Linked DNA regions of Homo sapiens: region 2 is linked to region 1. The links come from fine-mapping of genetic effects on gene expression. A gene starts in region 1. The other region holds a variant in brackets. All regions are shown on one strand. Distances are from middle to middle.

Region 1 (5,370 bases):
TCTTCAGGTTGTCCCCTTCACCCCCATAGACCACCACCCGCTTTGGCATAAAGTTGTCATCTGTGGTATCCACTGTGAGTAGCAGCTTCCTGAAGGGTCAGAGTGTGAATATGAGTCTTTGTGAACCCACAGGGACATAGCCCACCCACCCTGTCCTGCCCAGAGCCTACTTACTTGACAATGGTGCCCTTCTTCATAGTAAGCCGTACCCAGTGTTGGCACTGGGACCCATCGCTCTCCCAGTAGGTATCGGCATTGCTGTCTGTCAGGCAGGACACGTTGAACTCCTCCTGGGGAGGGGCAGAGACGTGAAGTCAGCAGTTACCCTCCCTCCCTGCACTGGGCTTGTGCTCTGGGCCAGGAGCACCAGAGAGAAAGCATAGTGAAGTTGGGCTAACAGGCAACTGGTATGGGATAGGGGGCCGCTGGGTATGTAAGGGGTCCTATAGACGTCCAAGATGGGGAGCTGAACTGAGTGTGGCCTGTGGGGACCCTGTTTTAGTCCTGGCCTGCAGGTGGGGGTTCTTTCTGGATCTAGCCTTGAGGGGTGTGACTATATCTTGCCTGGGGTGGGAGGAGCCCCAGCACCCACCGTGTAGGAGGAAACGTCTATGCTCTCCACATACTGCTTCACGCTACCCAGGTTCTCATCCTCCTTGCCCAGGTGGTCATACAAGAAGTGGATCAGGTCCTCGTCGCACTCGTAGGTCCATGTCGGGGGTACATAGCTAAGCAACCCCAAGCCCCTAATTAGACTGGGCCCAGACGCAGAGCTCCTTCCTCCCCACCCCATTCCAGCTCACTCACAGTAGCCTTTGTACAGCTTCTGCGTATGCCTCTGCCGGCTGAGGTCTCGATCCCAGGCGATGTGAGTATGTCAGGTCCACCACCTGTTCCCACCTGTGGGCACAGAGTAGGGAGTGGGATGGGGAGACATCAGCGGTCAGCAAGACACTACCTCCATGCCGTGTAGCCTTCTTCAGGGCTCTATCTCCCAGTCTCCCTCCGAGCCCCCTTCACGTCCCGCCCCTTTCTGCTCTTAACCCTGCCTCCGCTCCAGTATCCCACCCACCCCAGGCTGTGGCTGAAGTGTTCCCAAGCCCTCCTGGCCCGGCCTTCTGACAGCCAGCCCCGCTCCTTCAAGTGCAGTACCTGAGCACCGGCCGATAATCCACGCCAAAGAGCTGCTGCTGCCGCTGGAGGTGGTTGGGAGTGTCGATGGGTACCAGGCGGGCTCCGCCCTCCGCCGGGCGGCACACCAGCAGCCAGCCTTCCTGCAGCCCGCAGTCGCCCAGGTGCTCTGCCAGCTGCTCCTGCCGGGACGCGTAGGATGGGGACAGCCGTCAGGGAACTGCCCAGCCGCCTGTCGTGCCCAGCCCAGGGCAAAGGGCGCCGAACGCAATGCCAACTCAATACAGGGGAGAAAAGGCAAACAGCCAGAGGTTTCTCTGGCCCCAGGGGTCTTTTACCGGGTCCTGGGCAGGGAAGAGCGCACCTTTGTCAGCTTCACCCAGAGCCCGTGGCCATTGCACAGCTCCTCGCCCGTGGTGCGCACGCAGGCGCCGCGCCGGAGCTCAATGCTGTCGCGGGCGGCGCGGAGGGGCCCGGAGCCGGTACCGGGGGCTGGGCCTGCGGCGCCCACACGCAGCCCCAGGCCCTCTGCCTCCCACACCGGCAGAAGCACGCGCGACGGTCCCGCTGGGTCCTTGTAAAGCTTGTAGAGCACCTCTCGCGGCACGAAAGCCAGCGCTGCTGGCAGCGGCCGCCCGGCGCGGAGGCTCCGCGCTGCCTCTGCCAAGAAGCGCACGCGGCCCAGCAGCTGCCGGGGGGACTCCAGCACCGCGCCCGGGCCAGGACCCGCCATGGCGAAGTGGCGGAGGTGAGCACCTAGAGGCGACCCTGCCCGGGGAACAGCTGGCGCGACCGCGGACAGAGCTTCCCACCACGCCCTTCCCCGCCTTTGGCCAGCCTTTGCCGTATGTTCTGGACTAAGCGCACCCCAGCTCTCACTGTATTGGACTGTGTACTCCCACACTCAACCATATTACTTATCTCTGTGCCACCCTAACCCAGCCGACCAAACCCAAGATTGGTGATTGCTACCTGATCAATCTCCCTCTCTCCATTTCCTTGTGACTACCATTTTATCTCTACTGCTACTACCCTCATTCAAGTCACCATTCTAGCTAGCCTGGGTCATTGCCAACAGTCATTTTTCTGGTTCTTCGGCCTGCTGTTTTTCCTCCCACTCCCAGCGAATCTGCTGGACTCCCTATCCTATGGGTGGTGTGATTAAAGTGTTTGAGACAATGGCCCCTTCCCCTGCCACTGACAGGAGTCTTGAGTCATTAGGGTTGATTCTGTTTGTCACTCCTAATCCCAAGGACACTGGAGATCATTATTCATTTTAATGTGATTGCTGATTTCTGTTTCCCCAGTCTTGTAGCTCCTTAAAGGCTGGGGCTGTCTTGAGCAGAGCTAACCTCTGCACCTACTATAGGTCCAGGCTATAGTATGGACCTGGCTGGATAAGACTGTTGGTATCATGAGTGGGACTTGCGCCAAGCCTCCGGATACCCAGACTGTCAGATGAGAACAAATTCCTCATGTCACCGTAAGATACATTTACAGCGGAGTTTTCTTTTGGGCCTTTGTTGTTGCGTCGCTACAGCAAACTTTACGGTGAAAAAAGGTAGGGGTCCTACGGGCAGCAGCCAGGGCAGCCCTGGAGCTGTCGCTGGAGTCCGATCATGTGATCTTCAACATGGCGACGCTCTTGGTTCCCTACAGAAAGGGGCGGAGCCTGGACTGGGGGGCAGGCTCAGATTCAGGTTAAATTGTGGATTGAGCTCGCAGTTACAGACAGCTGACCATGGAAGCGAATGGGTTGGGGTGAGTTCTCCAGAGCACGCGGTGTGGCTAGCCGGGCTTCTAATTTGAGTCTTCCAACTCAGGACTCTATCCCTCTACTCCCCTTTCCCCACCCTGGAGACCTCCCAACCTGAACTCCGTTAGCTGGGATCCTGAATCCTAAAACCATGGATTTTTGAGATGTTCATCCCAGGGCCTTAATTCAAGGGATGCCTCAGGATTTCCAACCAGGATCTCTATTCTGGGACCATCAACTCTGATCCCTCTTTATCCCCCAGCCTGGGTATTTCTCAGCCCCTGAACCAGCCCAGTGACATTCCCGTTTCTGAGGCTCACTAGTTCGAAGACCCCCAAACTATCCTTAGTGGGCCTTCATTCCCTCCCCCCAGTCCCTCTGGTTGCTTCGAGCTTGGAAGAGTAGAGACTAAGTGGAGGGAAGAGGCCCCAGGGCGGGCCCTTCTGGAGTTTGTGCACCACCTGATAGGCAGAGAGGAGGCGGAACGGGCGGAAAGCCAGGGTTTGGGAGCTGGCCTGGAGGAGGTAGATAGCGGTCCTGGACTGAATCGGCCTTATGAACCCGCGCTTTCCCCAGCCTCCAGCGTAGCATACTGACACCTACCCCCACCCCCACCTGATCGCCAGACCTCAGGGTTTTCCGGAGCTGAAGAATGACACATTCCTGCGAGCAGCCTGGGGAGAGGAAACAGACTACACTCCCGTTTGGTGCATGCGCCAGGCAGGCCGTTACTTACCAGGTAAGAGTCAGGGTCTGGAAATCTAGATAAAACTCCGGAGGGAGAAAAGTTTTCGAGGGGCAGGGGAGGGCTCTGGAGGGCCTCAAGGCTGAGCCCTGTCTTCCCTCTGTATGCAGAGTTTAGGGAAACCCGGGCTGCCCAGGACTTTTTCAGCACGTGTCGCTCTCCTGAGGCCTGCTGTGAACTGACTCTGCAGGTGAGGGGTCCACAAAAGAGGGAAAGATTTATGCCTTCAGTCTGCCACCTAGCAACCTGTCTCCTGTTTCCTACAGCCACTGCGTCGCTTCCCTCTGGATGCTGCCATCATTTTCTCCGACATCCTTGTTGTACCCCAGGTACCCACTCAAACCTGATCCTAGAATATAATCCAAGGACGCCTTGAAAATCCTTCTATCAGTCCAGTCAAGGTTTACAATAAGCACTTATCCTAACTGGATCGAGGGAAAAACTAAGGTTGAAAGAAATGGAGTTTGGCAGAGTTTTATTCTCCTTTTCCTTCCTCCTGGAATGAGCTGAACAGAACCTTTCCTCCTGGATTCCATTTTGGGAACCCAGATGTTTTCTCCCCCTCCAGGCACTGGGCATGGAGGTGACCATGGTACCTGGCAAAGGACCCAGCTTCCCAGAGCCATTAAGAGAAGAGCAGGACCTAGAACGCCTACGGGATCCAGAAGTGGTAGCCTCTGAGCTAGGCTATGTGTTCCAAGCCATCACCCTTACCCGACAACGACTGGCTGGACGTGTGCCGCTGATTGGCTTTGCTGGTGCCCCAGTAATGTGGGACAGGGCAGGGACTCGGGGCGCGGGGAGATCACTCTGGAAGGTCTGGGGTAGACAAAAGGAAGGGTCAGTCTGGCTTCTGTGACACCATCTTTCTATCCTTCTCTAGTGGACCCTGATGACATACATGGTTGAGGGTGGTGGCTCAAGCACCATGGCTCAGGCCAAGCGCTGGCTCTATCAGAGACCTCAGGCTAGTCACCAGCTGCTTCGCATCCTCACTGATGCTCTGGTCCCATATCTGGTAGGACAAGTGGTGGCTGGTGCCCAGGTGAGTCCTGAGAGAGAGAGAAATAGGCTGGGATTTGGTCTGTAAGGACCAGAAGCAAGAGTGTCCTAAACCTGAGAGGGCAGGGGTCTTAATGCCAGGGATGAAAGAACCTTGGCCTCCAGTGATCTAGCGGAGCAGCCAAGCCCATCCTGACACTGACAGTGGGGCTTAATGCTCTAAGTATTCAGACACCAAAGTTAGTGCTGGGATCTGAGGAAAGTAAATTTTTTTTTTTTTAATTACTGGGTTTTTAGGGTCAGGCAGTATCAGGGATTGAAGTCATTTGGGGAAAATTGAGGTGGATTTTGTATGTGGGGGAAACTTCCTCTTTGTGTGTTACATATTTTTCTTCACCATACCCTAACTAGGCATTGCAGCTGTTTGAGTCCCATGCAGGGCATCTTGGCCCACAGCTCTTCAACAAGTTTGCACTGCCTTACATCCGTGATGTGGCCAAGCAAGTGAAGGCCAGGTTGCGGGAGGCAGGCCTGGCACCAGTGCCCATGGTGAGGATTGGGATGGGTTGAGTGAAGGTGGTCCTGTGGAGCTTTCAGGCTAAGTCCTGCATGGACTGGAGTGACCACTGGAGGGCAGCAGAAGTACAGTCAAGAAAGATTAGTGGTTGTAGCAAGGCCCTCTGTAGCCTGAGATCTGCTTTTTTCTAGATCATCTTTGCTAAGGATGGGCATTTTG
Region 2 (5,370 bases), 280 kb after region 1:
TAAAGGGCTTTTCTGGAAGCCTTACTGCTTATAGCTCATTGGCCACCCTATCTAAAAGACAGGTTAGAATGTAAAATTTTTCCTCTAGACATGTGGCCAGCAAATTTTCCCTAACTAAGAAGGGAAAAAATCAATATTAAATAGGCAATTAATCGTCTGTAGATCAGAAGAAACAAAACATGGCCTGGCATAGTGTGTGTATGTATGTGTGTGTGTGTGTGTGTGTGTGTGTATATATATATATATATATATATATATATACACAGATATATACAGAGAGAGAGAGAGAGAGTACAATGAGATTTATTATAAGGAAATGGCTCATACAGTTATGGAGGCTGCAAAGTCCCATGATCTGTTATCTGCAGGCTGGAGACCCAGGAAAGCCAGTGATATAGATTTCAGCTTTAGTCCAAAGGCCTGAGAACCAGAAGCACTGATGGTGTAAGTCCCAGTCTAAGGGCCAGAGAAGACCAACGTCTCAGCTCAAGCCATTAGGCAGCCCCAGCAAACTATTATAGCCCCATTTAATCCTCCCACCGACCCCACAAAGTCAATCATTAGCTCAATTTTATAGGTAAGAAAACTGAAACACAGAGAAGTGACATGACTTTCCCCCTCCTCCAGCTCATAAATGACAGGCTAGGGATGACAGCCCAGGTTTTCTTGACATAGAGACCCTGTGGCAACCAGGGCCCTTCCTTCCAGGGCTCTGGGCTACTCAGAGATTTGACAGAAATGTGGTGTACTCCCACTCACCTCCTCTCTCTCCCTGACCTTTGTGAGTTCTCTTGACCTCTTTCTCCGAGTACCCTAGCCCAACCCCAGGCATTGTCAATGACTCTCTGGCACAATTAGCTCTTTGCTTTCACTCAGGTAACTCAGAAATCTTCTGTGCCCTTGTAGAGATGCTCTTCCCTGAAATCCTCACATTTTAGAACCTGTATCAGCCCAACATCTCCAGCTAGTGTTAATTGGGAGGGATCTCTCCACCACTTTCCCCCTCTAGAGAGCTAGCCAGGGGCCAGGACAACTAGGCAAGCAGGCACTGCACCAGCTACCCTCACAGCAGTTCCCATGTGACATTCTATTTAATCCTCACAACAAACCTGTGAGTTAGGCATTATTATATCTTCATTTTACAGATGAGAAAACGAAGGCACCACACAGTAAAGAAACTTCCCTATGCCAGGCACAGCGGCTCACACCTGTATTCCCAACACCTTGGGAGGCCAAGGCAGGAGCATCACTTAAGCCCAGGAGTTCAAGGCTGAAGTGAGTCACAATCGCATCATTGCGCTCCAGCCTAAGCGACAGAGGAAGGCCCCTGTCTCATTAAATACATAAATAAATAAAAGAAACTTGCCTAATGCCACATAGTTAATGATACTTGACCTAGACTAGAGAAAGCTTCCTTGAGAAGCTTTGAGCTGAAGGAGTAGAAAATAGAAGAATATTGCTATGGTCTGAATGTTTGTGTCCCTTAAGTTTCATATGTTAAAATTTTAACTGCCAAGGTGAAAGGTATTGGGGGGTGGAGGCTTTGGGAGAGATTAGATCATGAGGGTTCCTCATGAATGGGATTAGTGCTCATATTAAAGAAGCTCAAGGGAGCTTGTGTGCCCTCCCAGCATGTGAGGACACAGGAAGAAGGCGCCATCTGTGAACAGGAAGAGGGCCCTCACCAGACACCAAATTTGCCAGCACCCTGATATTGGAGTTCCCAGCCTCTAGAACTGTAAGAAATAAAGCTCTTTTGTTCTATAAGCTACCCAGTCTATGGTATTTTCTTATAGCAGCTCAAACGGACTAAGATGAGTATCATGTGCAAAGGTCCTGTGCCAGGAGGGAGCCTGTGTGTTTGAGAGAAGATCATGTAGCTGAAGCTGGGTAAGAGAGCAGAGCAAGAGGGGCAGAGGCCAGGCTAGACAAGGCCTTGGAGACCTCCTTGAAGTTTTGGATCTCTGTTATAAGAGCAACAGGAAGCCATCAGCTGGATTTAAACAGAGAAATAATGAAGTAAAGTCATCAGTGGGTTTTAAGCAGTTGGAAAAGATTCTTCTGGGACAGTGTAGATAAATGATTGCAGGGCAAGTGAAAGGCAGGGAGACCATTAGTGTCCATGGTGGTAATCCCAGCAAGAGACGGTGGTAATCCAAGCAAGAGACGCTGGTAACGCGGATTAGGACAACAGCAGTAGAGACAGAAGTGAAAATGGAAAGAAGTGGATGCTTTCAAGAGCCATGTAAGAGAGAAAATTGGCAGCACTTGGTGACTGGACACGGCTACAGGGTGAGGGAGAGGTTGAGGTCCAGGTTTCTGGCTGGTGCAACTAGCTGGGTGGTACATGTTTCACTCAGATAGGGGATGCTGGGCAAAGAAAAGATTTGGGGGAAACTGTGTTCAGCTTGAGACATGTTGGATTTGAGTAAGACACCAAAGGGGAACTATCCAAAAGACAGCTGGACATGGGAGCTCGAAGGTCAAAACAGAGGTGTGGGCCTGAGTACATATTTGGGAGCTGTAACCAGGACCAGCCCATCCGCTAAGCACAGTAGAGACATGAGTGCCCCAGGACTTTTAGGGCTGACAAAAATGCTTTAATTCCTGATATGGTTTGGATGTTTGTCCCCACCCAAATCTCATGTCAAATTGTAATACCCAGTGTTAGAGGTGGGACCTGGTGGCAGGTGATTGGATCATGGGGGTGAACTTCTCATGAATGGTTTGGCACCATCCTCTTGGTGCTGTCTTCACAATAGTGAGTGAGTTCTTGCAAGATCTGGTCATTTAAAAGTGTGTGGCACCTCCCCCGCCCCACCCCGCCTTCTTGCTCCTGCTTTCACCATGTGATGGGCCTGCTCTCCCTTCACCTTCCACCATGATTGGAAGCTTCCCGAGGCCTCCCCAGAAGTAGATACCACTATGCTTCCTGTACAGCCTGCAGAACCATGAGCCTATTCAACCTCTTTTCTTTGTTTTTCTTTTTCATTTTTTTAAATAATTGAGATGGGATCTTGCCATGTTGCCCAGGCTGGTCTCAAACTCCTGGGCTCAAGTGATCCTCTTGCCTCAGCCTCCCAAAGTACTAGGATTACAGGCATGAGCCACCATGCCCAGCCAAAACTCCTTTCTTACAAATCACCCAGTCTCAGGTATTTCTTTTTCTTTCTTTCTTT[CT/C]TTTTTTTTTTTTTTTTTTTGAGACAGGATTTTGCTCTGTCACTCAGGCTGGAGTGCAGTGGAACAATCTCAGCTCACTGCAACCTCCGCCTCCTGGGTTCAAGAAATCTTCCCATCTCAGCCTCCCCAGCAGCTGAGACTACAGGCACACACCACCACAACTGGCTAATTTTTTATTTTTCTGTAATTTTTGGTAGAGATGAGGTTTCTCCATGTTGCCCAGGCTGGAGGAATTTCTAGCAGTGCAAGAGCACCCTAATACAATTCCCTTTAAATCAGAAGAAAAAACAAACTTTTAAGTCAAAAGTTTTTTGGTTTGTTTGTTTGTTTGTTTTTGAGATAGAGTCTCGCTCTGTCACCCAGGCTGGAGTGCAATGGCATGATCATGGCTCACTGCAACCTCCACCTCCTGGATTCAAGTGATTCTCCTGCCTGAGCCTCCCAAGTAGCTGGAATTACAGGTGCACACCACCACACCCAGCTAATTTTTGTATTTTTAGTAGAGACGGGGTTTCACCATGTTCCCCAGACTGGTCTCGAACTCCTGACCTCAAGTGATCTGCCTGCCTCAGCCTCCCAAAGTGCTGGGATTACAGGCGTGAGCCACTGCACCCAGCCTGTTTAAGAGACAGAGTTGCTCTGTTGTCCAGGCTGGGGTGCAGTGGCTTGATGATAGCTCACTGCAGCCTCAAACTCCTGGGCTTGAGTGACCCTCCTGCATCAGCCTCCCAAGTAGCTGGGACCACAGGCTTGACTGCGCCTGGCAAAGAAGATGTTTTAATAAATAATATTAATATAATTTATCTTTGTGCTAATGCAGTCATAAAATATAACTTTAAAAAAATGTTTACAGGCCGGGCACAGTGGCTCAGGCCTGTAATCCCAGCACTTTGAGAGGCCAAGGTGGGTGGATCACGAGGTCAGGAGTTCAAGACCAACCTGGCCAACATAGTGAAACCCCATCTCTACTAAAAATACAAAAATTAGCCAGGCATGGTAGCGTGTGCCTATAGTCCCAGCTACTCAGGACGCTGAGGCAGGAGAATCGCTTGAACGCGGGAGGCGGAGGTTGTGGTAAGCTGAGATCGCGCCACTGCACTCCAGCCTGTATGACAGGGCGAGACTCTGTCTCAAAAAAATAAATAAATAAAAAGTTTACATAGGAAGGGGCCCACAAAAGTCTGAATGCTGCTCTGTTTGTAACAATAAACATGCTTTCTGCTATAACAGAAACCCACTGGCAATGGCTCCAACAGTGACAATGTTTAATTTCCCTTGTGTGAGGAAATTCAGCGTTAGTGTGGCCTCCAGGGTTGGCAGATCGAGTGCCCTTAAAGGCAAAGACTCCTTCCATCTCTCCGCTCTGCCACCTTTACTGTTGGCTCCATCCTCAGGTGTTAGCAAAACAGCTGCAGCAGTTCCAGGACACCTTCAGACTTAACAACATTCCCGGGAAAAAGAGATACTTCTGTTTACATCACTCTCACCTAGGGGTGAGGAAACCTTTCCCAGAAGGCCTTCAGCAAACGTCCTTATTATGGAATAAATGTTTGTGTCCTCCAACATTCTTATGTTGAAATCCTAACCCCCAAGGTATGTATTAGGAGATGGGGCCTTTGGGAGGCGATTAGGTCAGGTGATTAGGTGTTTGGTGCCCTTACAAAAGAGACCCCCAAAGAACTCTCTTCTTATTTTGTTTTTATTTTTTTAGAGACAGGGTCTTGCTCTGTCACCCAGGCTGCAGTGCAGTGGCACTATCATAGCTCACTGCAGCCTTGAAATCCTGGCCTCAAGTGATGGTCTTGCCTCAGCCCCCAAGTAGCTGGAACTACAGGTTCTCACTATGTTGCCCAGGTTGGTCTTGAATTCCTGGCTTCAAGCAATCCTCCTGCATTGGTCTCCCAGAATGTTGGTATTACAGGTGTGAGCCACAGTGCCTGGCCCCCAGAGAACTCTCTAGCCCTCTTTCTGCCAAGTGAGGTCACAGCAAGAAGACAGTCAATGAACCAGGAAGCAGGCCCTCACCAGACACCGAATCTTCCCATCCTTTGATCTTGGTTCCCAGCCTCCAGAACTGTAAGAAATACATGTGTATTGTTTAAACCATCCAGTCTATGGTATTCTGTTATAGCAGCCTGAACTGACTAAGACGGTCCCTTTCATCTCACTGAGCAGGGCTGGAGCATATCT

Which allele goes with the higher level. Alleles are on the strand shown, and positions count from the first base shown. SD is a standard deviation of normalised expression in the study named.
As copies of C replace CT in region 2, the expression in monocytes after LPS of the gene that starts at base 2,861 in region 1 goes down (moderate effect, 0.45 SD a copy in Fairfax 2014).

What was found. PIP is the estimated chance that this variant, and not a neighbour inherited with it, causes the effect.
Region 2: its variant is the best candidate, but not a certain one, in a credible set for the expression of UROD in monocytes after LPS (Fairfax 2014, PIP 0.66).

The regions. Positions count from the first base shown.
Region 1 is chr1:45,009,394-45,014,763 of GRCh38, forward strand. It overlaps UROD (uroporphyrinogen decarboxylase), which reads left to right and starts at 2,861. Exons shown (of 10, transcript NM_000374.5): 1 at 2,861-2,892; 2 at 3,514-3,626; 3 at 3,743-3,822; 4 at 3,899-3,961; 5 at 4,201-4,398; 6 at 4,516-4,677; 7 at 5,046-5,183; 8 at 5,343-5,370. The coding sequence starts at 2,873. HECTD3 (HECT domain E3 ubiquitin protein ligase 3) reads right to left here and starts at 1,931. Exons shown (of 21, transcript NM_024602.6): 1 at 1,496-1,931; 2 at 1,153-1,313; 3 at 808-900; 4 at 593-728; 5 at 175-290; 6 at 1-89. The coding sequence starts at 1,864. RefSeq lists silencers at 1,598-1,767, 1,848-1,977 and enhancers at 2,738-2,787, 2,828-2,957, 4,368-4,904.
Region 2 is chr1:45,291,489-45,296,858 of GRCh38, forward strand. It overlaps LOC105378691 (a long non-coding RNA gene), which reads right to left. Exons shown (of 3, transcript XR_947287.4): 3 at 4,324-5,254. Among named protein-coding and RNA genes, the nearest start is that of LINC01144, 9.7 kb to the right of the region's middle. The variant CT/C (reference allele first, on the strand shown) is at 3,180.